4 linked regions of the Homo sapiens genome follow. The protein of the gene in region 3 interacts with the protein of the main gene of each other region in a pairwise test. Each region holds a gene or a part of one and is shown on either strand. Other genes may lie near its edges.

Region 1 (8,441 bases), on a different chromosome or scaffold from region 3:
TCTCTGACCTGGGTCTTCTGTAAACATTGTTGTGAAAATTATTGAAAGTGAAAGCCAGGCACGGTGGCTCATGCCTGCAATCGCAGCACTTTGGGAGGCCGAGGCGGGCGAATCACCAGGGCAGGAGATTGAGAGCATCCTGGCTAACATGGTGAAACCCCGTCTCTACTAAAAATACAAAAAAATTAGCCGGGCATGGTGGTGGGCACCTGTAGTCCCAGCTACTCGGGAGCCTGAGGCAGGAGAATGACGTGAACCTGGGAGGTAGAGCTTGCAGTGAGCCAAGATCGCGCCACTGCACTCCAGCCTGGGCGACAGAGTGAGACTCCATCTCAAAAAAAAAAAAAAAAGAAAAGAAAAGAAAAGAAAGTAAGTATTGGGGCGGGGCATGATGGCTCATGCCTGTAATCTCAGCACTTTGAGAGGCTGAGGCGGGCAGATCACCTGAGGTCGGGAGTTCAAGACCAGCCTGACCAACATGGAGAAACCCCATCTCTACGAATACAAAATTGGCCAGGCATGGTGGCACATGCCTGTAATCCCAACTACTCAGGAAGCTGAGGCAGCAGAATCACTTGAACCCGGGAGGCGGAGGTTGTGATGAGCTGAGATCGCGCCATTGCACTCCAGCCTGGGCAACAAGAGTGAAAGTCCATCTCAAAAAAAAAAAAAAAATTAAGGATTGGCTGGACTCACGGGACAGTGACAGGCAGTTGACGTGAGGCCCCTGACAGTCTGTCCTGAGCCGCAGCCAGATTAATGTTGCTGAAAACGTACCTTCCCATAGCACAACCCATCACCCTCACAACCGCCCTGCAAGCTCCCCTGAACAGTGTGACCTCCTGTCCATCCAGCAGCCTCTTTATGAGTGAGCTGCAGGACAAGCTCCGGCGCCCCGAGGACACTCACATGAGGAAGCAGGAAAGCGCTTCAGTGTCAGGACTCTGGGGAAGGTGCCTCCGGGCCAGGGGCTTGTAGTGCTGCCAGAGTCGGAAGTTCTCATAGACACTCTTGGGTTTACAGGAGTCGTCCGGCCGGGCCTTGGCCTGGGAGGGAGCCAGGCTGCCCTCTCCATGAGCCCCTTGTGGCCATGGCCTAGCGTTCCCTGGGGACACGATGGGGGCCACCTGGGCAGCCGGTGGTGGTGGTGGAAGAGGAAGGCCATGGGACCAGCCTCCCTCACAGGCCTGGGTGCCCCCAACCACCTGGGCAGAGGTAACGGGCACCCCAGGAGCAGCTGCCAGGAGTAGGGGAGGTGGACACATGACACCTCCACAGAGGGTGCCTGGAGCCTGCCAGACGAGGGGGGCCTGAGTTAGGATCAAGGTCTGTGCCTGAGGGGGCTTCACAGGCCCCACTTCTGTCCTCATCTGGACAAAGACGTTGGAAGCCCCGGCCCCACTCGGGCCGCGGCCATCCTGTCCTGCCACTAGAGGGGTGCTGGGGAAGGCAGAGAGCACCAGAGGGCCGGCTGGAGGAACCACTGCAGTCACGAGGGGCGGCCTGTGTGCTGGGCCGGGAGCGGGTGTGGCAAAGGGCAGAGCCGTGAACACAGACAGGGAGGTGCCAGGGTTCACGGTCACGCCGGGTCCCAGCACTGGGTATGCTGTGGAGACAAAGGAAAGAGGTGAATGAGCTGGCGTCTCCAGGTCCACACTAGTCACTGGGGAATCAGGGGAGTCCCAACAGCTGAGGGCATGTGACAGGGAAACTCTGCAGCTTGCAAGTGTCCCTGAGTGTGCATCAGATGCTCTGTTCCTCCACGGCAGAGTCGCTCCACTAGAGAGCCTGGCGCCAGTCACCAAGACTCCCTGACCCTTGTCTGCCAAGAAGAAACAGCCAAGCCTTTGCTGTCTCTGAGGGTCTCCCTCGGGTGTCCCTGGCAGACTGCACCAGCCTCACAGGCATCTCCCAAGCCATGGGTCAGGGATGAGTCTCTCGGTGGCTTGGTGGCTCTCAGTGTGCTCAGCAGCAGGTGAGGGGCCTACCCCAGGGCAGTGCTCGGCATTCAGAAGGCCGACAGGAAACCAGAAGTTTCCGAATATTATGGCCCCATCTCCTCTTCAGTCTTCCTTTCCCTGAAGCTCTTGTAAACCCCTTTCTTTCCTAGCTCAACACAACAAAAGAAAACCACTGGATAGGCCGGGCGTGCTGGTTCATGCCTGTCATCCCAGCGCTTTGGGAGGCCCAGGCGGGTGGATCACCTGAGGTCAGGAGTTGAAGACCAGTCTGGCCAACGTGGTGAAACCCCGTCTCTACTAAAATACAAAAATTAGCTGATGGTGCGTGCCTGTAATCCCAGCTACTCAGGAGGCTGAGACAGGAGAATTGCTTGAACCGAGGAGGCAGAGGCTGCAGTGAGCCGAGATCGTGCCACTTCATTCCAGCCCGGGTGACAGAGCGAGACTCCGTCTCAAAAAAAAAAAAAAAAAAAAAAAAGAAAACCACTGGATGGAAACTCACCCAAGCCAGTGCCCTAGGAACCCTGAAGATAACCCATAACACATCACGCCCAGCATGCAAGTGATTGTCCTGGCACCACCCACACAAGTGTTAAATAGGGGTCAGATTCAGGCCACCCATTCCTCAGTGCTCAGTGGTCCCAGCTGCCACTCAGGAAGCTCAGTTCCCAGGGAGCAGATCTGAGAAGCAGTGGTGGAGTCCCCTGAGATATTGTCATTGTGTAGCCAGCAACAGCTGCACATGACTAGAACACAGCCAGCAAATGGTGAGCAGCAGGGCTATCAGGGGAGGTGTCTAGGGATTTTCTTTTTTTTCTTTTTTTTTTTTTTTGAGACGGAGTCTCGCTCTGTCACCCAGGCTGGAGTGCAGTGGTGCGATCTCAGCTCACTGCAACCTCTGCCTCCCAGGTTCAAGCACTTCTCCTGCCTCAGCCTCCTGAGTAGCTGGGATTACAGGCGCCCGCCACCATGCCCAGCCAATTTTTGTATTTTTAGTAGAGACGGGGTTTCACCATATTGGTCAGGCTGGTCTTGAACTCCTGACCTCGTGATCCACATGCCTTGGTCTCCCAAAGTGCTGGGATTACAGGCGTGAGCCACCGCGCCCGGCCAGGGATTTTCACAGCTGCTAGTCATGTTACACTAAATAGTGGGACAGGGAGCCCATCTCTGGTCCTTCTCCTTTGAGCTCCCAGTAACTGAACATAGGGACCAACGAAGAACCAGGGGTTCTTGGGCCACAGGCCAGGTGAGGCAGAGTTGTCTGGAACTCATCCCTGTTCACTAGGACCTCATGCAGTCTCTAGCCAAGGGGAATAAGGGATACAGCACATGCACCTCATCAGTCAGGACACACATCCTAGTTTGAATAATAATAATAATAGGACTGTCTTCCTATTTGTGCGCTACTCTCCTTCCTCTACTGAAAAGGAAACCAGCCTTTTCAGAGCCTTCCACTGAGAACCAGCAAGAATCCACACCTGTCGCCCGTTCATGAGGTAGTATAAATGGAACAGGAGCAAATTCTTCACCTCCACAGTAACACAAAGTACAGAGGACGGGCCATGAGCTAGCTGACGAGAGGAAGTGGGTCTGAAGACCTGAGCTTCCACCAAAGGGCAAACAATTCAGAACAACTCAGGAAACCCAGGCCCTGTGTTGCCTGAACTTCCCCATTCTGCCCCCACCCCTGTTAAATCAAAGCCAACAGCTACCTGAACTGACGGAGAAGCCATCTCTGGGGAGGAAGCTGAGAGGCTCTGGGCTGTGGCAGTTGCAGTGGCCCCCAGCCTTGCCCACCCAGAGGCTGTCACTACATGCTCTGTCACAGCCAACCCACCCAACAGTTTTCTGGCTGAGACCACTTCTCCCCACTCCTCTCTAAGAACTAGAAAACTCCAGTCCAAATCCCTCTAAACACTATGGAAGGGCACCTTCCAGGTGCCTGAAGACACGGCACAGGGCTCAGGCTTGCCCGTCATTCTCCCTGGGCCACCAGCACAACACGATCCCACCACTCCCTACAAACACAATGACGTGACCTGTCCCCCTCTAGAAAGGATCAACCCATCCTCTCCATCCTTTCCACTACACGGTGTATTCCCCCAGGCATCTTGGTCCGCCTCTAAGGAGCCCTCCTCCCTAACCACAGACTCAGGGTGCCATGGCCATCCCCAGGTGTGATGTCCCTGGGGACATCCAGTGCTCCCTCCCTCAACATCAGCCCTATAAGCTGTCCCCAGGGACAGTTCAAATTTGAATTCCCAAGGAGTTGAGGCAAGGCAGACTCGGATAATGCCCCATCCCTACAGGCTCACCTCCATTTGAAGCCATCCCCTCAGGCTGGGCACTGACCACCACTGTCTGGCAGCTTCCGCAATGAAAAAAGTCAAGGGCAGGACCCAGAGAGTGACCTGACTCAGCAGATCCTCCTGAGTCCAAGTGGAGCAGGGATAATTTGCATATAAACAGGTTTGGAACACAGGACCCCAGACATTCTGCAGAGGGGGAGGGGCAGTGGGCAGCCGGGCTTGGCGGGGGTGGGGGACATTCTGTGAAGGGCTCTGGCCAGTAGGCAAGAACCTGAGGTTCCCTTGGTTCAGTTGGTTGCCATCCAACTGGATGGCAGCAACACAGACAGTGTGCGCCTCTTTAGGCAACTTTTAAATTGTCCTTCTGACTCACAGCAAAAGCTTCTACCTGATGTCCCCTTTACTTCCATTCTTTATCAACAGACCTACTTTTGTGCCAATCAACCCATGCTCCTTCCCACTTTGGCTCTTTCCCACTCTTGATGAATTTCAACAGGGGCCACACTTACTTAACAAAATTCAGAACACGTTTTCAGTCTGAGAAACACAGGGGTTCTTAGGAAGGCAAGGGGACTGAGTGTTTGAAATCAGAATGGCCTCAGCTGATCCAGGCTATTAGGTGGCTGTGTGCTCATCATTGTTTAGGAAGCAGTCCTTGTGCCCCCAGGTCATGTATGTTGCTGGAATCTGTCCACACCAGTAGGCCAGCCTTACTTCCCGTCCCCTTTCTTAGGAAGACTCAGTCCAGGAAAGAGAGGCTATGTGACCTACAGCACCGAGACCAGAAATCCTTTCATTTTGTTTCCCAGCATATTGTGCTGGTGTTAAATGTTTATTTTGTATCTTTTACATGATTTTAACTTAACTAAGCAATACTTTTGCATGGTTCCAAATTCAAATTGTGCACAGTGGAATAGACAATGACCAGCCTTCCTCCCACCTCTTTTCTCTGGCCACCACATTTTCTTTCCTGGAGGAAATAGGTGTTATCTGATTCTTTTTCATCTTTCCAGAGATATATTATGCAATCAAAAGCATAATGAAGCTATTTTTGCTGTCTAAAAATATTTTCAGTTTTTTGGGGGTAAAAATTAATATATTAATATGTTCTAGTATTCTTCTGATATTTGCAGTGACTGTATTTGTCCCAGTAATGTGGTTCCTCTCTTTATTTCTGTAGGTAAATTGCTAGAATGAGATGTTGGACTGTTTTTTAAAATTAAAAATACATGAAAGAACATAGTGGCCAGATTTAGCAAGTATGAATAAAGAATACCAAGTGGAATTTGAATTGAAGATAAACAGTGAATTAGTTTTTACTATAATTATGATCCATATGACATTTAGAGTACACTTTTACAAAAAAAAAAATCTGTCCTTTATCTGTGCTATTCACATTTCACTGGGATCTTGCACTTTATCTGGTAACTCTTCCCAAAAAAGTGTAACATATTAGGCAATTATTGTTAACTCTCCACTGTGAGAGTGCGAACTTGCAGTAAGGAGACTCAAGTGTGAATCTTGGCTGCACCACAAAAAGATTCTGCACCACAACCATTGCAGAAAACAATAGCAGGCTGATTTGATGAAAGGAAGTCAGGAGTAGCCATTATACCGTTCTCAGCTTCCAGGTTTAGTGGCAGTACGCACAGTTTTAAGGGACAGGAGAGCAGAACACCGTCTTTTTCTTTCCTAACATAAAGTGGCTTACAATTCCTAGAACTCTGGTTTCTCCAGGAGTTAGAAATCCACAACCCACGTCCATTCTGAGACAAGCAAGGATGCTAACCACCAATGTCCCATCCCCATTCTCATGCATCCCCTTGCATGTGTGAATCCTGGTTGGAGTCTCTCAGCTCGTTGCTGTCCTCATCTTCATCACAAGTGTCATCACATGTGGTTCTCAGCATGGGAATTATTGTAGCCTGTCTTTAAAAAAATCTTCATTCTCATTTTCACACAGAATTGCTGTTTATCAGCGTCAAAATGACAGGAAAGAGCACTCATGTTCTGTGTTGTGAACAAGGGGAGTGTTAGGAAACTGGTCAAAGGAGATGAGGAGTGAGTACTCAGAGCACAGCAAGAAAATCTGAGACACAGATGTCACTCCCTGCTGGGCAGCAGTCTTTTGCACTGATGGGTGGGTGTTGGGGAAGGGAAGAGGCCTTCAGCCGGACCAGTGCACACTGTGAACATTCACTGAAACACACCCTGTTGGCACTTAAGAAGCATTTGCCCCTTTCAAAGACATTTGGACTCAAGAAGGCAGAGTTGCAGAAAACGTAACGGGCCACACTGCAGGGGCAGGCAGTGGATTGCAAGTCTCAAGCCCAGGGTTCTCCCCTCCTTGCCTGGGTTGTGTGAAAAAGTCATTTCCTAACTCCTATCCGATATCCTCATGAGTTCTCGGTTTTGTCCCAACTCTAAAACTGAATGGTCCAGCGAGCATTTCTATGAAATGCCTCCACAGTGGCCACTGGGAGGGGAGTGACCTCCACACAGTGACTGCCTGTCTGGATGCTCCCAGGCCTTTTGTCCTCCGAGACAGAGCTGCCTCCTTACATGCAGCCCTCTTCTGCTGTGCAACTCTACCTCGATCTTAGCTGAGAAGATCAGCGGAGAGCAATTCAAGCAAAATCATGGTAAACTTACCAAAACCAAACCAAACAAACAGTAAATGCTTTGGAGATCTTTCTGAGGACGCGATCTTTTATCACGGGGCAAAAACTTAAATGATTTTCAATCAGTAACTTCATCTAAGAGGGATGTTGAGGCAAAATATCACACTCAGGCACTGAAGAAGGGCAGAATTCTTGTTTGCTTCCTCCCTTGTCAAGTTAGTCAGTCAATGCTTTCTCAAGATGCTCACACATGGCTTTGATACAGGATTTGAATGAGTCTTTTTCTGAGCCACTGATACAAAAAGTATATTGTGGAAGTGTCTTGTTTCAATTCTGCAATCGCTTCTGTATGTGTTTGAAGTCCTAGACCCCAGGAGGAGAGACAATCAAATTAGCCAAAGGTAATTTGTGAAGACTGGCCATAGAAGGTGGTGGCTAAAAGTCCTCTGGCCCCTGCTCTCTGAGCATGCCCACAGAAAGTCCTGGGCCACACTGACTGCTGAGAAACATCATCTCAGGGCTTGGATCCCCTGTTCAGAGGACAGATGCTCTTCCACCCAATCACTGAACAGTAGAGGAATGGCGGCTCCATGCTGTGTCTGGCAGAGCTCTCAGTCTCTGCACTTGAGACCCTAGGCCGTCATAGACGTGAAGGCTCTTCAGTGTCATCACGTGGAGACAGACGGTAGGAATCCTGCAAATGAGCAGAAAGGATCTGATGATGAAAGTTTGTTCTGAAGCTACTACAAACTCAAGTCAGTGAGTTGCTTCTGTACTAGCTTTTTTTTTTTTTTTTTTTGAGATGGAGTCTTGCTCCCACCTTGAAGTGCAGTGGTGTGATCTCCTCTCACTGCAGCCTCCGCCTCCTGGGTTCAAGCAATTCTGCCTCAGCCTCCCAAGTAACTGGGACTACAAGTGCGCGCCACCACGCCTGGCTAATTTTTGTAATTTTGGTAGAGACGGGATTGCACCATATTGGCCAGGCTGGTCTCGAACCCCCAACCTCAGGTGATCTACCCGCCTCAGCCTCCAAAAGTGCTGGGATTACAGGCGTGAGCCACCGCGCCCGGTCAGACTCTCTCGTTTCTAGGAGGGACGGTCTTGGAGGCTCCAAGGAGAAGGCGTCGCCTGGCCCCAGGAAGCGCCCTGGTGCAGCGTCCCTCCATTTCCCCATCTCCTGCGGGGCCCTCCCAGGGCGGGCTCCACGCCTGCCCTGCGCGCCTGCGCAGGAGCCTTGAGGCGGGCGGGGTTCCAGCGCGCAGCCGGCCGCCCTCAACCGCTCCCAGCATCGGTTGCCGGTGGTTCGGGGCAGGGAGACGACGCAGCGCGAGCGGAAAGGGCGGTTACCCAACGGCCTTAGCTCTCATGGCGTCCTCCGTGGTGTTACCTAAAAATAAAGTTATTTGTGATTAGAAGGTAATCGCCTCCTGGTCATGCTTCCGCTGGTCAACAGTGTCTGCGGGGCGACCCCATCCTTGTGGCCAGAGAGGGCCTGTGGCTGCGCTCAAGGCGGGAGCGGTCCTTAGCGGGGCCCTGCGGGACGCCCA
Region 2 (7,861 bases), on a different chromosome or scaffold from region 3:
CACCAATAGGGAAAAGTCCATTGACTGTCAATGGAATATTAACATGAAAGCTTTTCAAAAACAGTATATTTTATTTTTTTTTGAGATGGAGTCTTGGTCTGTCGCCCAGGCTGGAGTGCAGTGGCTCAATCTCGGCTCACTGCAATCTCCGTCTCCCAAGTTCACGCAATTCTCCTGCCTCAGCCTCCCGAGTAGCTGGGATTACAGACATGTATCACCATGCCCGGCTAATTTTTGTATTTTTAGTAGAGACAGGGTTTTGCCATGTTGGCCAGGCTGGTCTTGAACTCCTGACCTCAGGTGATCCGCCCACCTTGGCCTCCCAAAGTGCTGGGGTTACAGGCGTGAGCCACTGCGCCTGGCCAAAATTTGTCTTTATCAAGAGATTAGACTTGATGTTTGATTTCATTTTCCTTTCTATCATAAACCTGCCACTTTGTCAGAAAATCAGCTTAAAAACTTCCATAGACTTTTGTCCATTTTGACACTAAGAGGGTCACGGACGAGCTGGCAGCTGGAGCCAGTGTGTGAGGGTGGTGTTGAGGGCTGGGTGCAGGGAGGGGGTTTGGGGGGCGGCTCTCATGGGAGACCGACTCTGTGCCTTGACTCTCACAAGGGTAGGGTCAGGATCTCCCCCGCTTCATTCCCTTTGGAATTGCATAGTCCCCAGCCCTCCCCATGGGGACCCGGCCACAGCCCCCGCCGTCGGCAGCTCACCTAGTCGGGACTGTAGTGTGCCGTCATCGGTGGACGCCATGTCATTGAGTCTGAGCAGCCCCCGGCCTCTCTCCACCCAGGACTGTGAGGTCTTGTCAAAGACAAACAGCTTGCACTGCATCTGGAACACAGTGGCCGCCGGTAAGCAGGGACCCCAGCTGGTGTCCTGCTGCAGCCACACCCTGAGAGTCGCCCTTTAGCCTGTGGGGACTGCCAGGGCCAGCCAACGACGGCCTGGGGGCCACCTTGGTCAGTTTTTTGTCCTGCCCTCAAGCTAGAACAGGCTTTACATTGTATAAGGGGTATCTGAAATTAAAAGAATCACTAAGGAAATGAAAAGCAAAACAACGGTGAGAAGCCTCTCTGCGCACTCTAGGACGGCTATACCCATGTGGGGAAGCTGGAACCCTCACACACTGCTGGCGGGAAGGCCGCATGGTGCCACTGCTGTGGAAGAGTCTGGCGGCTCCTCAAACTGCTTAACAAGGAATTACCACATGCCCAAGCAATTCCATTCCTCGGTATGTACCCAAGAGAAATGGAACATTTGTTCGTGTTCACACACAGATCGCACATGAACGTGCACAGCACCATCATTCACGGTAGCCAAGTCTCAAGGAGGAATGGAGTGACACACATGGTCCGCCCCTACAGCGCATCTCACTCAGTCTTAATAAAGAACAAGGCTCCGACCCCCGCTGCAACGTGGATGAACCTCTGGCTCAGCGAGAGAAGCCAGACACGAAAGGCCACATAGTGCGTTGATGCCATTTATATGAAATGTCAAGGACAGGCAAAAAACAGAGACAGGAAGTGGATCTGTGGCTGCCAGGGGCTGGGGAGGGAGGAGGAGTTACTGCGAATGGACAATGCTCTTTCTGGGGGAATGGGACAGTGTTCTTTTTGGGGGCAGAAATGTTGTACGTTAGATTCTGGTGAAAGTTGTCTGACTCTGTGAATATACTAGAAACCACGGAATTGTATGCTTTAAAAGGATGGATTATATAGCATTTGTACTATATTTCAATACAGCAGTTTTGTATATATAAACAAAGAAAAATACGAGACAGACACCCCTACATGGCTTTCCACATACCCCCTAAGTCAATCTCTTTCAACATGAACAGATGACAAAGTGGTAAGTGGGAAAAAAGAACAGTGCTCTTAAGAACGCCACGATACGCCACCCGGTTTACAGACACAGACACCTGCTTATGTGCCACGGGAGAGGAAGCACATGGATGCTGCCCAAGCCGGGTGGTGCGGCCTGAGGAGCAGGAATGGGGGATGCCAGGAGGGGACGGTGGGGTGGAACCTCTGGCCGCACCTGATCTTTTCCCTACGAAGACACCACAGGATGCCAGGTGACAAATAATACAGTTGCCAGCTCTGGGCGACAAGAGAATATGTTTGGTATGACAGTCTTTGTCATTCCCTGAACCATCAAAAATGTCTCGGGCTGGGCGTGGTGGCTCACGCCTGTCATCCCAGCACTTTGGGAGGCCGAGGCGGGTGGATCACATGAGGTCAGGAGTTTGAGACCAGCCTGGCCAACATGGGGAAACCCCGTCTCTACTAAAAATACAAAAATTAGCCTGGCGTGGTGGTGCACACCTGTAATCCCAGCTACTCAGGCGACTGAGGCACAAGAATCCCTTGAACCCAGGAAGCAGAGGTTGCAGTGAGCCGAGACTGTGCCACTGTACTCCAGCCTGGGTGACAGAGTAAGACATTGTCTCAAAAAAAATTAAAACAAAACAAAGAATGTCTCAAACAGATCCTCCTCCTCTGAAACCAAAGACATGCAAGAAGCCCCTGAGCCTAAGCTCTCTCTACAAACGCCACCAACAAAGTCCCAGAGCGTGGGGCCAGTGGCCCCTCCGTCATCTCAGGGGCAGGCCTGTGTGCTCAGAGGATGTGGGCCCAGCCCTTGCGGTTGGACCCCCAGGTGCATGGAAGACCCAGGGCCACCGAGGAGGGGCCGGCCCCTCACCTGTAACACATTGCTCTCCGCCTCCTCCCCGGTGATGACTTCCACTTTTTCCAACAAACACTTCCGCGCTGTTGCCTTGGTGTAGGCGGCTGCCGACTCAGCCAGGGACTCTGAAAAGTTATTGGCCAAAAAGACTGACTGATTATTTGGCGAGAGGAGAGCCATCTCCCCTCATCCGACAGGAGATGAGAGGGTTGGTTCTGGTCTCAAGGACGCCTGCTGCCCCTGGCAGGCCTGCCCCGGCAACCCAAGTGGACCCTAGACACAGCCAGAGCATATGGCCTCAGAAGCTGCAGGGAGACCATCTGGGGGCCAAGTGTGGCCCCAGACTCTCGTGTTCGTGCCGAGCAGTCGACGGGGGGACAGTGAGGGACTCCTCCACGCCTGCTGCCTGCGCCTCCCCACCCTCCCCACGGCCACAAGGCGACACAGGCCCTCGAGTTCTTTATCACAAACCCTTGCTCACTGCAAGGCAGGGCCCTGGAGCTGGTTCACATGTGGTTGTTACTGCTGCGGGAGTCGGGCCCCTTATCCCTCCCGGCTGGGGGTGTGAATGGACCCAGCATCCCCCAAGATGACCTACCATGAGCCCCATGCTGTGGTGGGACGCTAACATACCTTTCTCAGGGGTGGCCTCCTGGGACGAGGACTCAGACCCTGACTCGGCAGCTGCATTTTCCCTGTTGGCATCTGAACTGACCTCGTTTAATTTTGGGGGGCTCTGCAGGGACACAAAAGCATACAAGGAAGAGGGCACTTGTGTGGTCCTTCAGCAGCAGCTCTGAGCACCTCTCTGCCTGGCCCCCAACACTACGCTGCCCCCAGCACTCCTGCCCACTCCCGGTGACACCCTGAACTGCCTGGGAGCTCCCCACGTGGTCCCTCAGGCATCACTACGGGGTGAGTGCCACCAGCCGACAGTCCCCTCGAGCCACACTGGTCACTCCGTCTGGGTGAGGCAAGACTTTGAACATTTCATTGAAATAGAAAAAGCACAGCGTGGCCACGAAGGAAGAGAAGCTGCAGAGTACTTAATGCAGCCTAACTCCAGACAGAGCTAGAGTGACCAGGCGGCTCAGGACAGGCCCTCACGCAGTCGCAATGGAGCTGGGTGGAATCAGGAAGAAAAAGGAACATGTGTAAAGAGGTAGGCAAACCATTCTAGAACCCTCTCCCAGGCTGGCTGGGCTCCTGGGAACGGAGATGGGCCTTTCGTGCACCCAAGGCCTTGGCCGCGGTTATGCTCACAGGAGCAGGGAGGCCAGCAACCCTGTCCACCAGCACGGCTGGCTCCGTCCCACAGGACTTTTGTCAGTTGGCCTGGTGGGGAGGAACCATGGACCCCGACTGCCAGCAGGACCCTGCAGCCTCCAGGGAAGCCCATCTTGGGATGAAGTTGGCCCTGGTCAGCACGGAGGAGCCGGGAAAAGCGAATGCCAGTTCGTAGGCAGCCAGTGGCCCTGGCCAGTTTTCAGGCTGAGTCTGAGCAGGGTCTTCCCTCTCTCACTTGCTACTGAAGGCATCCCCATCTCACATAGGACGACACAGCAGCCCTGCTCTCCATGTCCCCTTGACCTGTGGCTGGCGCCGAGAGCCTCTGGTCCCTGAGAACATTCCCAACACAGCCACTCACCAAAACTCGCTCGCTCATGTTCTGGCCAAATACAAATTTGTTGCTGGAGGCGTCGGCACTATTGGTTGAGTTCTCTAAACTGAAGAGAAGATGTGCAATGAGTGTGGGGCGTCACGTGGGAACGTGGCCAGGCAAATGTATGGGTACCCATGGAGCACACACTGACACAGAGGGCACAGTGGAGGGGCCTCCGCCACTGTGCACGGGGTGGCGTGTCAGAGGCAGGAAGCCACACACCTCCCTGTGCCATTGAAAACATTAACCCTTAGCTCGCCCTGATGGAGGGGCCCCACAGCATGAGGGAAGCCACCTTCCACCTGCTCTACCCGCCCATCTCCCAGTCGGGACACGCTTTCTTCTGAGACACCTGGAGGGGCAGCTGGTCCGTGGGTAGCATTACCCCCAGCCATGTCAGTCAAGGACATGATGAGGTCTTTGCCCCAGGTGCCCAAACCCAGAATAAGGGGGCGCCTGAGTCGCCTCTGGCCTGCTCTGTTCTGCTCTGGGCATGAGGTCCACAAGACAGAGGGCACACTCCAAGGGCTGGGCTGTAGCCTCCATGGGCCCCTGGACAACCCCACAGAACTCTGGTCCTGTCTCAGGCGTCCAGTGAATCCCAGGACAAGGCCCACCACCCTGGCCCACCCAAGGTTGTGCCCAGAGTGGGGAATGAGAGAGAGGGGCCTGAGAGCAACCTGGATTCTGGGCCTGAGTCGGGCACGGGGACCACAGACCCCTCTCTGGCAGAAGCCCTCGCGGCCACCTGCATCGCCATGCCAGGCTGGCCGCTGACACCGAGACACACACCTGGAACTGATATACTGGAGGAAATAGTTCGTTGCGGTTGGCGTGTCTGCGCTGGGGTGTCCAGCATTCTCCATGTCGGCTTCGTCCACGCTCTCATTTATCAGCTGGGAATGAGACGGAGCGCTCAGTAATCGGGGGTGGGGGGGTGCCTGGAGTTCCACAGCTCAGTGTCTGCAGACCCCCTGAGCTGCATGGAGCTGCTCGGAGCCATGAACCCTCTCCTGTACCCGCCTGTGTGTGTGCGCGTGCATGTGCTGGGGGGCAGGGCTATAATCAACTCCATCACCTTTTGCTTTAACAGTTAGGATGGAAAGAGAGCTCATGAAGCTCCAAGGAGCCTTTTCCACCTTGTTACAAAACCACGCCTTGTTATAAAACCACGCCTAAGCTGGCCTCTCGGTCAATGCTTCATACCAATAACACAACGTTACAAAGCTGACGTTTTGGGGGGTTTACTATGAACATGATAGAAGCAGAATTTCTTGAGGGCCTCTTTCCTACCAGCTGCTATGCTGAGTCTGTCAAATGCACGATCTGCTTTAATCCTCACGAGGCCTGGGAGGGGGATGTTAGGGACCCTGTTTGACCAACAAGGAAGCAGAGGCTCAGAGGGTTAAGAAACCATGGCTCTGGCTGGGCGCGGTGGCTCGTGCCTGTAATACCAGCACTTTGGGAGGCTGAGGCGGCGGGGAATCACTTGAGGTCAGGAATTCGAGACCAGCCTGGCCAACATGGAGAAATCCCCACCTCTACTAAAAATACAAAAAATTAGCTGGATGTGGCAGTGGGCGCCTGTAATCCCAGATATTTGGGAGGCTGAGGCAGGAGAATCGCTTGAACCCAGGAGGTGGAGGTTGCAGTGAGCAGAGATCATGCCACTGCACTCCAGCCTGGGCGACACAGCAAGACTTCGTGTCCAAAGAAAAAAAAAGAATCCATGGCTCAAGTTTGCCCTGGAAGGAGAGGCTGGGATTTGACTGAGACTGCGAAGTGCACGTAAGCCTCTGACTTCTGCAAGAAGCCAACCCCACCAAATTCAAAGCAGCTGTCTCCCCAGACTCAAGGCAGAGATTCCACAGGGCCTGAACTCCACAGGCCAAGCCCTTCCCCGCCTCTTGCCCTCCCTCCTTGGAGGGAACAGCCCCTGAGGGACTCATTATTTTGCCTAAAGCCATGGCAACAGCAACATCAACTTTCCACGTTTCTCGACTTGGGCTTCTGTTGGACGGTGAGTAACAGAAAGGAAAGCAGAAAACACAAGCCGGTGCTTTCTGCATGCTAGAGAGGTTTTTGTTTATTTCAGGGCCCTCCCCGTCGACACTACTGACATGTTGACACTGGGCCCAGAACATTCCCTGTGGTGTGGCTATCCTGGGCACTGCAAGGGGCGGAGTGGCATCCCTGACCTCCAGAAGTACCTCCCAGTTGTGACAACCACAAAAGTCTCTAGACACAGCCACCGATACCGCCTCTCGAGCTTTGAAAGAAGCTTCTTGCCAGTGGAGCTGCTAGAGATGCCGTAGCACATTCCATGTCTGTGGCTGGGAAAGGTGGTGCTGGCTGACCCTGGTCTTCCTAGAGTCCCAGTGCATGGTCCAGGGCCACTGTTTCCAACCACTGCCATCCCTTCCCCACCACACAATCTCCAAACTAGGACCACATGTCTGGAGGGCAGCCAAGAGGTGGCAGACGCTTTGCTCCCTTTCAGGAGAGAAGACAGTGTTGTCACCCCACCCTGCCCCACTTAAAAAAAAATAAGGTGACAGTTCTTAATGGGGGCGATTCTACTCCACAGGGAATACTGGCCACGTCTGGGGACATTTGTGGTTGTCAGATGTCAGGAGCATTGGGTGGGTGGAGGCCAGTGATGCTGCTCAGCACCCTGCAGTGCCCAGGGCGACTCCTCAGAAACTAAGAATGGTCCAGCCGTAATGCTGCTAGTGCTGAAACAGAGAAACCCTGAAATACGGGAACAGAAACCTCTGGGCAGAGCTGAGAACACTGGACCGTGCTGTCTTTCTTCTCTGCTATGAAAGCCTGAGGCCTCAGGTTCAGTCACCTTCCCTGTCCCCGCTACCATGAGAACCAGGGACCCTGACTTGAGAAGTCACTGCAGGTGAGGGCTCCGAAGCCTGGGCTGCTGGTGGGGAAGTGCCAGGGCCCAGCACACGCACACCAGCAGCAGACTGTGCCGTGAGCCATGGGGCTGCCTCGCTAACACCTTCTTTGTCCCACGCTCCCCTCCCCTGTTAAAAGGAAAATCTACCTACTTGCCTGCTGTTGAACCTGGGGAAGGCATAAAAAGTCAATGTGCTGGTTCAACAGCTCACATACCTTAACTCTGTCCCTCAAGTTCTGCCCAAATACAAAGGCTTGCTGTGTGGCGGGGTCTTTTTTCTCACAGGCTTCCTCTTCAGAGGCATTGCTGGACTCATTTTTCTGGGGCTCTTTCTCCTATCAAAAACCAAAACAAAACAGAGTAATCAAAACCAGTGCCACACTTGGCCCAGACGGATGCCCAGCAATCCCACACCAGATCATGTACTCCACACGTCTCCTCTGCATGTGCCTGCACTCCCAGCTACTCAGAAGGCTGAGACAGGAGGACTGCTTGAGCCTGGGAGTTGTAGTGAGCTGAGATCACACCACTGCACTCCAGCCTGGGTGACAGAGCAAAAACCTGTCTCCAAACAACAAGAAACACCTGTGCC
Region 3 (7,861 bases):
CTTTAAGGTGCTAAATGGATACTGGTTGTTTTTTTTTTTTTTTTTCCTCAGAGAGGCAATGTAGTTAGATTTTGAGGACACCGAGTCAGGCTGCCTGCTGTGTTTGCCTTCTTGTTCTACCACTTAGAGTTCTGTGATCTTGAGTAAGTTACTTAGCTTCTCCTTGCCTCAATTTCCCCATCTGTTAAATGGGAATAATAATAGTATGTGCCTACCTCATAAGGTTGTCATGAGGATTAAATAAGATGATAAATACAAAATGCTTAGAAGAGAGGCTGGCATGGGCCGGGCATGGTGGCTGATGCCTGTAATCCCAGCACTTGGGGAGGCCGAGGTGGGCAGATCACCTGAGGTCAGGAGTTCGAGACCAGCCTGGCCAACATGGTGAAACCCCGTCTCTACTAAAAATACAAAAATTAGCCAGATGTGGTGGCAGGCGCCTGTAATCCCAGCTACTTGGGAGGCTGAGGCACGAGAATCGCTTGAACCCAGGGGGCAGAGGTTGCAGTGAGCTGAGATTGCACCACTGCACTCCAGCCTAGGCAACATAGTGAGCGAGACCTCATCTCAAAAAACAAAACAAAACAAAACAAAAACAGAAGCAAAAAAAAGAAAGATATAACTCATTCCTGGAGGTTGAATTAACAATAGCATTTTCAAATTCCTTTATTTAATCCTAAAATGGAATAAAGGAATGGCAGGCACTATATGGAATTAAATCCTGGAGTTGAAAATGAAGATCCATAAAGTTGGCTATATATCCTGATGTATTTGTCCTCCAGCAAATGAAGTGTTCATCATGGATACTCCCCAGGGGTCCTTCTCACCCTCCTTCCACTCGCCACGATATTCCTCCCCACTGGAGTAGGTGAAGGAACCTTTTGTCAGGGTCATGGTGACAGATTACAGGATAAAAGGATGAAACTGTAGGAAATAAGCAAAGGAGAACCAGTGTCATGGAATGGCGGGAGGAAAGGACTGCAAGGCAATTTTATAGATACATTCTAAAGGCCACCAGCCTGGTAAGTGTACACTGCCTTAGGTGCATTTAACCAAAATACCCCTATCTCCAACCACCACCAGCACCATCATCTCCACCTCTGCCCAAGTGCTCTTATCCTCCTGCTTATCTTAAAAGTTTTCAGCCAGTTCCTATTTTCTATGACCTGGGATGGAAATCTACAAATATTAATCTACAAATATTTATTTGATACCTACTATGTGCTCAGTCGATGTATAAAATACAGTATCTTCCCTTGACGAGTTTATAATCTAGTTAATAAGACTAACAATTTAAACACTGAATTATGCCAGAGATAATGTGATTAAGTGCCAACTTGGATGGCAGAGATTAACAAAGACATGAGATGGCCAGAATTTAAAACAAGCAGACAAGCAGTGGAGAAGGCAAAGAGCAATTCCAGAATCAGAAAACATAGGGAACAGGCCAGGGGCAGTGGCTCACGCCTGTAATCCCAACACTTTGGGAGGCCGAGGTGGGTGGGATGACCTGAGGTCAGTTGTTTGAGACCAGCCTGGCCAACATGGTGAGACCCCGTCTCTACTAAAAATACAAAAATTAGCTGGGCGTGGTGGCAGGAGCCTGTAATCCTAGCTACTTGGGAGGCTGAGGCGGGAGAATCACTTAAACCCGGGAGGCGGAGGTTGTAGTGAGCTGAGATCACACCACTGTTACTCCAGCCTGGGTGACGGAGCAAGACTCTGTCTCAAAAAAAAAAAAAAAAAAAGAAAAAAAAAAGAAAATATGGGGAACCAACACTCAAAGGGCAAGGAACACTCTAAGGGCAATGTGAACACGAGATGTTCCATGGCAAAATAAGAAGCCTGGTCTCATTACAGTTGAGGGTTTATTTGGGGAGTATTAGGAAATAAGCCTGTGTAGGTACATGTAGCCACAATCTTAAATTTGAAGAGAGGCCTGGTGCAGTGACTCACACCTGTAATCCCAGCACTTTGGGAGGCCGAGGTGGGAGGATCACTTGAGCCCAGGAGTTCAAGACCAGCCTGGGCAACATAGCAAGACCTCATGTCAAAAATGTAAAATTAAAAAACAAAAAATAGGCCGGGCGTGGTAGCTCATGCCTGTAATCCCAGAACTTTGTGAGGCCGAGGTGGGCGGATCACGAGGTCAGGAGTTCGAGACCAGCTTGGCCAACATGGTAAAACCCCATCTCTACTAAAAATACAAAAATTAGCCGGGTGTGGTGGCGGGCACCTGTAATCCCAGCTACTCAGGAGGCTGAGGCAGGAGAATTGCTTGAACCCAGGAGGCAGAGGTTGCAGTGAGCTGAGATCACACCACTGCACTCCAGCCTGGGTGACAGAGCAAGACTCTGTCTCGAGAAATAAATAAATAAATAAATAAATAAATAAATCTGAAAAGAATCTCATGGATTTAGCCCAACCTCTCATTTTATAGGAGAAATAGAAGCCCAGAGAGGTAATAAAGTTTGTTGACAGCCTCCCCTGACTATGCTAGTCCTTTTTTCCTGTACAGCACAGCCTCTGCTTTTAGCTCAGGCTAACTTAAAGAGACCTTTGAAAGCTGGGCATAAGAGTTTACAGCATATGAGGGAGGAAAAGAGGCGACCTCTGCGGGTTTGTGAACCAGGATGTAATATGAAGGCAGTGTGTAAGGAAAATGAATGTGGTAGCACGAAGTGGGATGAATTGGAGCAGCAAGTCCATAGTCAGAAAAGCTTGCAAGGAAGGGAAATATGATAATGAAGCAAATTGTAAAAATGGGCAGAGTTATTCTCCCTCCGTTCATGACCCTACAATGTGACAAGGCAGATCCTCCCATTAAGAGGCAGAGTTGGCCGGGTGCGGTGGCTCACGCCTGTAATCCCAGCACTCTGGGAGGCGGAGTGGGTGGATCACCTGAACCAGAATGGCCAGCATGGAGAAATCCTGTCTCTACTAAAGATACAAAACATTAGCAGGGCGTGGTGGCGGGTGCCTGTAATCCCAGCTACTCGGGAGACTGATGCAGAAGAACTGCTTGAACTCGGGAGGCAGAGGTTGCAGTAAGCCAAGATCGCACCACTGCATTCCAGCCTGGGCGACAGAGTGAGGCTCTGTCTAAAAAAAAAAAGAGGCAGAGTTTATTTATTCCTCCACCTGCTGGACCTGGGTTGGCTGTGTGACTTGTTCTAGATAATGGAATGTTCGCAAAGGTGATCTAGCAGAGGTCTGCAAAGCACCTGTGCACTGGGCTTGCCCTCTTGCTACACTTGGACCTGTTCTGCCCCCATGTAAATGAGTCCAATCTAGTCTACTGGATGGTGAGACCCTGTCCCAGCTGGCCACAGATGAACAAATTGCTCAGGCAAGACTAGAAGAACTGCCCTTCTGAGCCCGGCCCCAAACTAGCGACCACAGACTCACAGGATAAATAAATGGTTATTGTTTCAAGCCACTGTGTTTTCTGGTGGTGTGTTATTACCCAGAAAAAGCTAACTGATACGTTCAGGCATGAGTCTGGGAGATCACAGTATAATGGGAGCAGAAGGAACAACTGGGGGGATACATCATAGGAAAACAATCAGTAACATTTGGGGACTGGCTAGATATGGCTTCACATTAGTGGTGAAAGGATGTATTGAAGGATATTCTATAAGAAGGGAACTGCACGGTGGCTCAAACCTACAATCCCAGCACTTTGGGAGGCTGAGGCTTGCGGACCACTTGAGCTCAGGAGTTTGAGACCAGCCTGGGCAATATGGTGAAACCCCATCTGTACCAAAATTACAAAAAATCCAAAAATTAGCCGGGTGTGGTGGTGCGTTCCTGTAGTCCCAGCTACTTGGGAGGCTGAGGTGGAAGGATCGCTTGAACCCAGGAGGCAGAAGTGCAGTGAGCCAAGATCACGCCACGACACTCCAGCCTGGGCGACAGAGGGAGACCCTGTCTCAAAAAAAAAAAAAAAAACGGAAGAAGAAGAAGAGGGAATTAAGATACCCCCCAAAATCATTAAATATAAACAGAGGCAAATAGTACGTCATTTGATAGACTAAAAAATACAAGCCCTATTTCTTTTTTAATTCCCTAGGTCTCTTCATTCATCCCTTCATCTTTCATTTATTTATTTATTTATTTATTTATTTATTTATTTATTTTTTAGAGACAGGGTCTTGCTCTGTCACCCAGGCTAGAGCACGGTGGCACGATCATAGCTCACTGTAACCTCAAACTCCTGGATTCAAGGCATCCCGTCACCTCAGTCTCCTGAGTAGCTGGGACTACAGGCGCACACTACCACATCTAGCTACCTCCTCATCTTTTCCAGATCTAAGCAATACAATGTTTTCTCCAGTAATTTTGACAATGCAGATTCCTAGGCCCAAACTCAGACTTACTGAATCAGATTCTGTAGTCAGAGCCTGGGAACCTGCAGTTTTAATAAGCACATCATTAGATCCTTACTTCAAAGCTTGTGGCCTACTGCTACAATAAATGGAAATACTGTGTGTGAAAAGTTCTCTGAACTATAAATCACTATTGAAAAGTCCTCTATCAACCAAGCATGGTGGCTCATGCCTGTAATTCCAGCACTTTGGGAGGCTGAGCAGGGACAATTGCTTGAGCCCAGGAGTCTGAGGCTGCAGTAAGTCATGACAGTGCCACTACAGCCTGGGTGACAGAGCGAGACCCTGTCCCCCTCCAAAAAAAAAGTCCCCTCTGATTAATAAGTAACCTAGAGTCTGACCCTCAGGCATCTGACTGAGTTCCAACAGGACAAGGACACATTCTCCTCAGAGTACTGGGGCCAGACCTGGTGGAGAAACAGGAAAGAATTCTTTTTTCTTTTAGAGACAGGGTCTCATTATGTTACCCAGGCTGGACTTGAACTCCTAGGTTCAAGAGATCCTCCAATCCCCTCTTAGACTTCTGAGTAGCTGGAACTACAGGTGCATGCCACTGCTCCCAGCTCAAAACAAGACGGGATTCTTTTTTTTTTTTTTTCTTTTTTTGAGACAGAGTCTCACTCTGTTGCCCAGGCTGGAGTGCAGTGGCATGATCTCGGCTGACTGCAAGCTCTGCCTCCCGGGTTCATGCCATTCTCCTGCCTCAGCCTCCCGAGTAGCTGGGACTACAGGTGCCCACCACGACGCCCCACTAACTTTTTGTATTTTTTAGTAGAGATGGAGTTTCACCGTGTTAGCCAGGATGGTCTCAATCTCCTGACCTCGTGATCCGCCCGCCTTGGCCTCCCAAAGTGCTGGGATTACAGGCATGAGCCACCGTGCCTGGCCGCAAGATGGGATTCTTAAATCTCGGGGGCCTGGCGCCAACAGCTAGCTTCCTTTTCCTTCAAGTCCCAGGGAAGCCAAAACCTCATCCAGTCAAGATGGAGTTCCAAAGAGTGGGTTCCATAGTTTCATAGCACAAAAGGGGTCTGGTATATTTTATGCAAAAGTGATGCTTTAAATGTTCAACTAAAACAACCCATATGTTAAATTTGCTTTCTCCACATTGTCATGGTGGACAGTGCTAGATTATTTATATTTCAATTCAGGTGGCACAACCCTCTCTAATAATCAATTGCACTAACCCCAGAGAAGCTGTCTGAAATACCTTTATAACAGAAGCTAACATTTACTGACCTCTTACTGTGTTCCATCAGTGTTGTTTATTTGTTTTGTTTTAAGAGATGGGGTCTCACTCAGTTACCCAGCCTGGAATGCAGTAGTGTGATTGTGATTAGAGCTCACTGCAGTCTCAAACTTCTGGGCTAAAGTGATCCTCCCGCTTCATCCTCTCCAGTAGCTGGGACTAGAGGTGTGTGCCAACACACCCAGCTACTTTTCAAATTTTTTGTTGAGATGGGTATCGCTATGGTGCCTAGACTGGTCCCGAACTCCTGGCCTCAAGTGATTCTTCCTCATCAGCTTCCCAAGTAGCTGGGATTACTGGTGTGAGCATCAGTGTTTTTTGTTTTGTTTTGTTTTTGAGACGGAGTTTCACTGTTATTCTTCCCCAGGCTGGAGTGCAATGGCGCGATCTTTGCTCACTCCAACCTCCGCCTCAGCCTCCCAAGTAGCTGGGATTACAGGCATGCGCCACCACGCCTGGCTAATTTTGTATTTTCAGTAGAGATGGGGTTTCACCATGTTGGTCAGGTGACCTCAGGTGATCCTGACCTCAGGTGATCCACCTGCCGCGGCCTCCCAAAGTGCTAAGAATACAGGCGTGAGTCACCGCACACGGCATGAGCATCAGTGTTTTTAAAATATATTATCTAATTTCATCTCACAACAACTTTTTGGGGTGGGTATTATTATTATTTCCACTTTAGGGATGAGGAAACTAAGGTGCAGAGAGGATAAGTAAATTAACTAAGGTCATACATGTGGAAACTAACACGTGAAAGTTAGAATCAGAGCTCTGACAGCTGGCCTTGCTGGCACAAGTTCTTACAGTAACTTGCTAACTTATACCATACTATCCTATCTGGCCTCCCAGGATAATATGGTGGTGTTGTAGACTCTGAGCACAGGAGGACTTGAGTTCAAATATGAGTTCACTGTATAATTATGGGCAAGGTATTTAAGTATCTCTAAATCTCAGTCTCCTCATCTGTAAAGTGGAGATAAGATATGTATTTCACATAGTTGGCAGGTGGATTAAATTAAATATCTGAGAGTCAGTGGGTGACAGAAAAGAAAAATAAAAGAAAGAAAATGACACACACGTAAGTACCTAGAACACTGCTAGGGCCTGTCCACTAAATGTTAGTTTCTTTCCTCTTTCAAAGTTTTACACTTAAACTCACACATATACTTACTGTAATGAAAACTTCTCTAGGTCTTTCCTCAGTAAAAACTGCTACCAATGTAATTCAAACAACACTTTGAAAAAGAAAATCTCAGCAATTTTGACTAAAGAGCTGAATACTAAGTAGAGGAAAAACAAACTATAGTTGCCACCCATCCACTCTTTATCAACATCCTACAGGATATTTTTATTTTGGCCTCATGTCATAACGATTTTTTGTTTTTTAAGGAGACAGTGTGTCGCTCTGTTGCCCATGCTGGTGTGCAATCGCTTGATCATAACTCACTGCAACCCTGAACTTGTGGGCTCAAGCAACCCTTCTGCCCCAGCCTCCCAAGTAGCTAGGACTATAGGCACACACCACCATGCCCAACTAACTTTTTTGTAGAGACCGTGTCCCACTATGTTGCCCAGGCTAATCTCAAACTCCTAGCCTCAAGCAATCTCTGGCCTTGGCCTCCGAAAGTGCTAGGATTATAAGCATGAGCCACCACACCCAGCCTCATGCCTTTTTTTTTTTTTTTTTTAAAGAGAACAAGCGGGCTGGGCACAGTGGCTCACGCCTGTAATCCCAGCACTTTGGGAGGCTAAGATGGATCACCTGAGGTCAGGAGTTCGAGACCAGCCTGGCCAACATGGTGAAGCCCTGTCTTTACTAAAAACACAAAAATTAGCCAGGCGTGGTGGCACATGCCTGTAGTCCCAGCTACTTGAGAGGCTGAGACAGGAGAATCACTTGAATCTGGGAGGTGGAGGTTGCAGTGAGCCAAGATCATGCCACTGGTCTCCAGCCTGGGTGACAGAGCGAGACTCTGACTCAAAAATAATAATAATAATAATCATAATCATAATCATAATCATAATCATAATCATAATATGTTCTGATGCTTGTTCTCTCTCTTTTTTTTTTTTTCTTGAAACGGAGTCTTGCTCTGTGGCCCAGACTGGAGTGCAGTGGTGCAATGTCGGCTCACTGCAACCTCCACCTCCCGAGTTCAAGTAATTCTCCTGCCTCAGCCTCTCGAATAGCTGGGATTTCAGGTGACCGTCACCATGGCTGGCT
Region 4 (7,861 bases), on a different chromosome or scaffold from region 3:
GATGTAAATTTCCTAAGTAGAGGCTTCCCCTTCCTCCTCTCTTGCCTTTTGGGCATTTTATTGCTCCTTAGCACCTCCATGAGGAGGACAATTGTGGAAAGTAGTGGACGAGGAGGTGCCAGGGTAATAAGAAGGAGGAACCGCTATCTCTAGGTTCAATGGAAAGGATATAAAAGTGAGGTCCAGAAGAAAAAGTTTGAAGTTTTGGGGCTTTTGGTTCCTCAGTTTATCTTGTTTCTTATTAGCCTAGATGGTACTAGTAATAGTAGCTACCACTAAGCACTTAATGGATGCCCAGCCTTCTGCTGAATGCTTTATATTCATGATCTCATTTAATCCTCAAAACATTTTTATAATTTAGGAGATTATTATGCCCATTTTATAAATGAGGAAACAGCTCAGGGAAGTAAGTAATTGGCTGAAAGTCACACAGCTTCTAAGTGGAAGGGCTGGGATTGGAACGGGATCTGTCTGCTTCCAGAGCCCATGTTCTCATGGTATTGGGCTCCCTAACACCAGGTGTTCTGATGTTTCAGGTGAAGAGATTGTTTTCTGAAAGCTGCGTTGGAGGCTGTGACAGAGCTGAGAGCCTGTGTGGAGCGGATGGGGAGGCTTTCTCAATAACATGGCCCTTTGCCATTAGCCTTGCCATGACCACATTTTTCACCAGCGTCCCCCCCTGGATTCAAGATGCAAAGCAGGAGGAGGAAGTGGGCTGGAAACTAGTTCCCAGGCCTCGGGGCCGGGAGGCGGAGAGTCAAGTGAAGTGCCAATGTGAAATTTCGGGAACACCTTTCTCAAATGGGGAGAAGCTGAGGCCTCACAGCCTCCCGCAACCAGAGCAGAGACCATATAGCTGCCCTCAGCTGCACTGTGGCAAGGCTTTTGCTTCCAAATACAAGCTGTATAGGTAGGTGACACTCTCATATCTCTTCCTGCCCTGAGGTTCCCAGAGGGAAAAAGCAGAGAGACTCTGCCTAGTGTGGGTTTTTAATCTGTGGCAGAAGAGTGGAGGTTAATTTGTCCTACAAGTATACCCTGAATGCCAAACAGTTGAAGTCACTCACTAAAAAATGATTCAGATTGCTTGATTCAGACACTAGAATCTGATGGGTTGCCTCCCCAAAGTATTGGGATTGCTGGCGTGAGCCACTGCACCTGGCCTTCTTACACCTTCTTAGTGACGATCTGGGTGCCAATGTCAGGCAGCCTTGAGTTTTGTTTGTTTGTTTGTTTGTTTTTTTAAGAAATGGGAGTCTTGCTCTGTCATCCAGGCTAGAGTACAGTGGTGCAATCAGCTCACTGCAGCCTCCAATTCCTGGGCTCAAGTGATTCTCTTGACTCATTCTCCCAGGTAACTAGGATTACAGGCTTGAACCACCGCACCTGGTTGTTTTTAATTTTTTGTAGATATGGGGGTGTGGCTGTGTTCCCCAGGCTGGTTTCAAACTCCTGGGCTCAAGTGATCCTCCTGCCTTGGCTTCCCAAAGCAGTGAGATTACAGGCATGAGCCACCGCACTTAGCCCTGAACATTTTTTTTTAAATATTGCTTTCCTCACCTTTGTCAGGTGATGGTCAGAATTTTAGCTAGAAGTTAGGAATCAGTATTCGAACTTTAGAAGGAAAAGTAGACCTTCTGGCCCAGTCTGTAAATTTTAAAGTAGAGGTTCAGAGTAGGGACATAACTTACCCAAGGTCACACAGCTTCAGAGGTCCTGCAGTGCCTCTTCTACTGAATCAGCCTGCTACTTACTCATTTAACTATGTCTGTCTCCCTGTTGCCCACTGGGGCAGCTGCTTTTCTGAAACTTGTAAGCCCAAGAACCCCTACTTAAAGTGAAATTAAACGTAAAAGCCCTGACATAAGGCAGATAGAGAAGAGCAGCTTTGGTTGCTTTGGTGAGGATGGGGAGGCATGGTCAAAAGCAATTTTGGGCCAGGCGTGGTGGCTCGCACTTGTAATCCCAGCACTTTGGGAGGCTGAGGCGGGCGGATCACTTGAGGCCAGGAGTTTGAGGCAAGCCTGGCCAACATGGTGAAACCCCATCTCTACTAAAAATTTTTTAAAAATTAGCTGGGTGTGGTGGCACATGCCTGTAGTCCCAGCTACTTGGGACTCTGTGGCAGGAGAATCACTTGAACCCAGGAGAAGGAGGTTGCAGTGAACTGAGATTGTGCCACTGTACTCCAGCCTGGGTGACAGAGCAAGACTGTCTCAAAAAAAACAAAAAAGAGCAATTTTGATTTTATCCTTTTCGCATTAGAGGAACCATGAACTTGCCCTTTAGAAATGAGATAGATCAGCCGGGTGCGGTGGCTCACGCCTGTAATCCCAGCACTTTGGGAGGCCAAGGCAGGCGGATCACGAGGTCAGGAGATCGAGACCACGGTGAAACCCCGTCTCTACTAAAAATACAAAAAAAATTAGCTGGGCGCGGTGGCAGGCGCCTGTAGTCCCAGCTACCGGGAGGCTGAGGCAGGAGAATGGTGTGAACCCAGGAGGCAGAGCTTGCAGTGAGCCGAGATCACACCACTGCACTCCAGCCTGGGCGACAGAGCGAGACTCCGTCTCAAAAAAAAAGAAATGAGATAGATTGGCCTGATGCACAGTCATCCAACCATCCATTCATCTATCCAACATTATTGAGCTCTTGCTCTGTACCAGGCACAGTGCTCGGTGCAAGGGGCGGAGTAGTGAGCCAGACAGATGGGGGTGCTGGTCCTCCTTGGGTTTATGGTCTTAATAGTGGGTACAGACAGTAAACAAGTAAATACATGAACAAGATGACCACAAAGCCTCAGTTCCTCATCTGGAAAACAGTTAATAGGAAGGGACTAAAATAGGCAACAGGGTAGCATGGTAGTCAGGATTGCCCTCTTGACAATTCTGTGGTCCTCAGGAGTGCTTAGATTCTCTGTGTGCTCCTATAAGTTAAGGGAACTCCAGTCAAGGCCATACTCTTAGGCTTTCTTTTTTTTCTTTTTTTTTTGAGACAGGGTCTCACTTTTGCCCAAGCTGGAGTATAGTGGCGTGATTATAACTAACTGCAGCCTCAAACTCCTGGGCTCAAGTGATCCTCCTGCCTCAGCCTCCTGAGTAGCTAGGATCACAGGCATGTACCACCACCACACCCGCTAATTTTTGCATGTTTCCTAGAGACAGGATCTCTTCCCTGTGTTGTGCAGGGTGATCTCAAATTCCTGGCCTCAAGCAGTCCCTCCACCTTAGCCTCCCAAAGTATTGGGATTACTGGCATGAGCCACTGCACCCGGCCTTCTTAGACTTTCTTAATGATGATCTGGTTGCCAGTGGGCGGCTGCAGGAAAGGTCCTGGGTCAGGAGGCAGGAGCCCTGACTCATCACATATAATTTACTGTGTGATCTTAGGTGAGTTGCTAGACCTCTTTGGGCCTCAGTTTCCTCACCTGCAAAATGAGGGAAATGAAAAGTGGATCACTCAGCACCTCCCTCTCTACATTACCACGTCAGTTCCATCACAGGAGGTTGACAGTAACCCACATAGGCACGAGCACTCTTGAGCATGCATATGTGGGATGTGGGCAGGGGGTGTGTTTGATACCCTCCAGGTAGAAAGGATCACAGAGTGCTGTACGAGAGAGAGACAGCTGTTGCATACCTGACTGAACATAGGTCTTCCGAAGGCCTGTTTAAATTCAGCCTCTGCTAGGGTGAGGGGGCTGCCTTTTTTTTAGACTCCTTTCCTTGTCTGGAGATCAAGGTTAATGACACAGCTTATGCAGAGCCTGGCAAACAGTGGGTGCTGAGTTGATTCTGAATATGCTCTGGAGCTGTGAATTGCAGTTCCTGGATTCTGAGCCACTTTTCAACCATATAGGATCAGGTAAACCAAGGGACACTGAAGTGCCATACCATTAAAACATTTCTTAAAGTGTTACTGGTTTATATGACAAGCAATTCAAGTGGTACATACTGGCATGCAGTGAAGAATGAATGATCCTCACACTCGAAGTCACTATTCCTCTCCCCAAAGGCAGCTGGTGGGTTGGTTTTTGTGTATCCTTCCTAAGACATTCAAACATGTATATTCTCTTTCTTTTTTATTTTCAAAACAGATTGTATCACATGTACTGTATTGAACTTCCTTTTTTGACTTAGCCCTGTATATCTTGGAAATTTGTTCTAGATAAGGAAGTTTATTTATTTATTTAGAGACGGAGTCTTGCTCTGTCACCCAGGATGGAGTGCAGTGGTGCGATCACAGCTCACTGCAACTTCAAATTCCTGGGCTCAAGTAATCCTGCCTTAGCCTCTTGAGTAGCTAGGACTACAGGTGCATGCTGCCATGCCCATCTAATGGTTAAGATTTTGTAGAGACAAGGTCTCGCTATGTTGTTCAGGTTGGTCTGAAACTCCTGGGCTCAAATGATCCTCCTGCCTCACCCTCCCATAGTGCTGTGATTACAGGCATGCACCACTGTGCCCAGACTGCACGTTTAGGTATATTTTATTTTCTCTTTATTGTATCATTTAAAATTATTTAAATGTAATGTTTAAAAAATGAAATACTTTCACGTAATTCAAAATTCAAAAAGTACCAAAACTTATACGATGAAAATTCTCCATGACACCCATCTATAAGCTGTTCGGTTCTTTTTCGCATAGGCAGCCACTGGTATCAGTTTCTTGTATGTCCTTCCAGAAATATTTTAGCCATATACAAGCAAACATACATATATTTTTCCCCTTTTCACATAGAGTCCTAGTCTACATCCACTATTCTGCCTCCTTGCTTTTTTTCTACTTCCTGTCTCTTAGGAGCATGTTCCCTGTAAGTACACAAAAAGCCTCATTTTTGAAAAGTTGAGTCATTTTATGGACTTATCATAATTTATGTAACCAGTTCCCTATTGATAGATTGGACGTTCAGATTGTTTCTGATTTTTTTTGCTACTACAAGCAATGCTGCAAAGAATGTCGGTACACATTATTTTGCAGATAGGCAAGGATATCTGTAGAATATAACTGGTTTGGTATTGCATTGCAAGCCTTTACCATGGTTTTTATATCTAGTTTCCTGTTAATGGACACCTTTGGTTGTCCAGTCATCCCTTGTGATCTCCCCTCTTTCTGCTTTCTCCCCTATCCCCTGTCTCTACCCCCAGGCACATGGCCACCCACTCAGCCCAGAAACCCCACCAGTGTATGTACTGTGATAAGATGTTTCACCGCAAGGACCATCTGCGGAACCATCTGCAGACCCATGATCCTAACAAAGAGGCCCTCCACTGCTCTGAGTGCGGTAAGAATTACAATACGAAGCTGGGCTACCGGCGCCACCTGGCCATGCATGCTGCCAGCAGCGGTGACCTCAGCTGCAAGGTGTGCCTGCAGACCTTTGAGAGTACCCAGGCCCTGCTAGAGCACCTGAAGGCCCACTCACGCCGGGTAGCAGGCGGTGCCAAGGAGAAGAAGCACCCCTGTGACCACTGCGACCGGCGGTTCTATACTCGTAAGGATGTACGGCGGCACCTAGTGGTGCACACAGGCCGTAAGGACTTCCTGTGCCAGTACTGTGCCCAGCGGTTTGGCCGTAAGGACCACCTGACGCGTCATGTCAAGAAGAGCCACTCGCAGGAGCTGCTCAAGATCAAGACAGAGCCCGTGGACATGTTAGGCCTACTCAGCTGCAGCTCCACAGTCAGTGTGAAGGAAGAGCTGAGCCCTGTGCTGTGCATGGCCTCTCGGGACGTAATGGGGACCAAGGCCTTCCCTGGCATGTTGCCCATGGGCATGTATGGTGCCCACATCCCTACCATGCCCAGCACGGGCGTGCCACACTCCCTGGTGCACAACACGCTGCCCATGGGTATGAGCTACCCTCTGGAATCCTCACCTATCTCTTCCCCAGCTCAGCTCCCTCCAAAATACCAGCTTGGATCTACCTCATACTTGCCCGACAAATTGCCCAAAGTGGAGGTGGATAGTTTTCTGGCGGAGCTTCCTGGAAGCCTGTCTCTCTCATCCGCTGAACCCCAGCCCGCCTCACCTCAGCCGGCGGCAGCTGCGGCCCTCCTAGATGAAGCACTGCTTGCCAAGAGCCCCGCCAACCTCTCTGAGGCCCTCTGCGCTGCTAATGTGGACTTCTCCCACCTACTGGGCTTTCTTCCACTCAACCTGCCCCCGTGTAACCCACCTGGGGCCACAGGAGGCCTGGTCATGGGCTACTCCCAGGCTGAGGCACAGCCCCTGCTTACCACTTTGCAAGCTCAGCCTCAAGATTCCCCAGGAGCTGGGGGACCACTGAACTTTGGGCCTCTGCACTCCTTGCCTCCTGTCTTCACGTCTGGCCTGAGTAGCACCACCCTGCCTCGTTTCCATCAAGCATTCCAGTAGCCCCCACAGAGGCCCTCAGCTCAGTTTTTGGCTCTGTTATGGAGCCTTAGTACCCACCCCGTCTGTGTCCCCCATGAAGGCAGCTGAGCTTTCAGAGCTGGGTTCAAAAAAAAAAATTCCAGTGTCTGTATACAGGAGCACTTGGTTTGGGGGTTCAGGCTCTAGGATCGATTCCAGAAGGAGCCTTGAGCCCCAACCCCGTGAAAAGATCTCATACCGTAGGACTTCAGGTATTATTTACTTTTATTTTTTTGACCTGAATCGGGAGCCACACTTGGCCCTCTTCCTCTCCAAAGCGCCAGAACCTCCTTCTCTTTGGAGAATGGGGAGGCCTCTTGGAGACACAGAGGGTTTCACCTTGGATGACCTCTAGAGAAATTGCCCAAGAAGCCCACCTTCTGGTCCCAACCTGCAGACCCCACAGCAGTCAGTTGGTCAGGCCCTGCTGTAGAAGGTCACTTGGCTCCATTGCCTGCTTCCAACCAATGGGCAGGAGAGAAGGCCTTTATTTCTCGCCCACCCATTCCTCCTGTACCAGCACCTCCGTTTTCAGTCAGTGTTGTCCAGCAACGGTACCGTTTACACAGTCACCTCAGACACACCATTTCACCTCCCTTGCCAAGCTGTTAGCCTTAGAGTGATTGCAGTGAACACTGTTTACACACCGTGAATCCATTCCCATCAGTCCATTCCAGTTGGCACCAGCCTGAACCATTTGGTACCTGGTGTTAACTGGAGTCCTGTTTACAAGGTGGAGTCGGGGCTTGCTGACTTCTCTTCATTTGAGGTCACATTTTTCCCCCGTGGGGAAATAAACTGACTTTGGACTGCTTCAGTCTCTGCCATCTTCCATGACTGCATTTGTTCCTGCCTGCCTCGGCGGTATCCACAGAAGACAGGCAAGAGGATTGGAGCAGTTTTCTCACAGGTCTGCAATTCTGTTTTTCTCCAAGTACATTATGACCCCCTCATCCTTCTCTTGAACTGGAGAGGGGAAGAAATGAAAGGCATGCCCACGTCCGTCACCTCCCCATCCCCTAGTCCCCACCTTGAACATCATGAGCTGTTGTTATTAGTCTTGGAAGCAGAGTCTGGGTTGGTGTGGATAGCAAAGGAGGAAGTCTGAGCCCCTCATTGGTCTTCCTCCCACCTGTCCCTTTTCCGGGAAGTTGTGGAATTGTTGGAAGAAGAGTTTGCAGAAGGTTAGGAATGGGTAGATAGCTAAGTCCTAATCTATGGGTACATTGTTGTGTCCCAAACCAAAATTTTCCTTATCCACAATGTCCCTTCTGTCTCTTCCACTTTACAGTGGACTCGGCCACTGTGCATAGGCTTCTCTGCTCTCCATCAAATCACTTCCACTTTCCTGTGCCCCCACCCCCGCCTCCAGTTTTCCGCTAGTATCCGGCAAGGTTTCTTGCAACAAATGATTAGTTCTTTTCTTCTGACTCGTGGGGCTCCCTGCTGCAGAGAGCACAGCCCTT

What was found.
Region 1: the proteins of MORN4 (region 3) and NUTM2F interact in a two-hybrid assay, tested with the Homo sapiens proteins (2 studies listed by BioGRID).
Region 2: the proteins of MORN4 (region 3) and RANBP3 interact in a two-hybrid assay, tested with the Homo sapiens proteins (2 studies listed by BioGRID).
Region 4: the proteins of MORN4 (region 3) and PLAGL2 interact in binary tests that used the Homo sapiens proteins (3 or more experiments, as listed by UniProt).

Annotation. Positions count from the first base shown.
Region 1 is NC_000009.12:94,324,329-94,332,769, forward strand, and holds the start of NUTM2F (NUT family member 2F), read right to left. Parts: upstream 4,317-8,441; 5' UTR 4,296-4,316; coding exon 4,280-4,295; intron 1,607-4,279; coding exon 910-1,606; intron 1-909.
Region 2 is NC_000019.10:5,920,484-5,928,344, forward strand, and holds part of RANBP3 (ran-binding protein 3), read right to left. Parts: intron 7,605-7,861; coding exon 7,485-7,604; intron 5,255-7,484; coding exon 5,151-5,254; intron 4,423-5,150; coding exon 4,344-4,422; intron 3,432-4,343; coding exon 3,329-3,431; intron 2,821-3,328; coding exon 2,711-2,820; intron 839-2,710; coding exon 718-838; intron 1-717. UniProt on the Homo sapiens protein: Acts as a cofactor for XPO1/CRM1-mediated nuclear export, perhaps as export complex scaffolding protein. Bound to XPO1/CRM1, stabilizes the XPO1/CRM1-cargo interaction. In the absence of Ran-bound GTP prevents binding of XPO1/CRM1 to the nuclear pore complex.
Region 3 is NC_000010.11:97,618,760-97,626,620, forward strand, and holds part of MORN4 (MORN repeat-containing protein 4), read right to left. Parts: intron 925-7,861; 5' UTR 895-924; coding exon 828-894; intron 1-827. UniProt on the Homo sapiens protein: Plays a role in promoting axonal degeneration following neuronal injury by toxic insult or trauma.
Region 4 is NC_000020.11:32,194,968-32,202,828, reverse strand, and holds part of PLAGL2 (zinc finger protein PLAGL2), read left to right. Parts: intron 1-536; 5' UTR 537-650; coding exon 651-910; intron 911-5,146; coding exon 5,147-6,377; 3' UTR 6,378-7,861. UniProt on the Homo sapiens protein: Shows weak transcriptional activatory activity.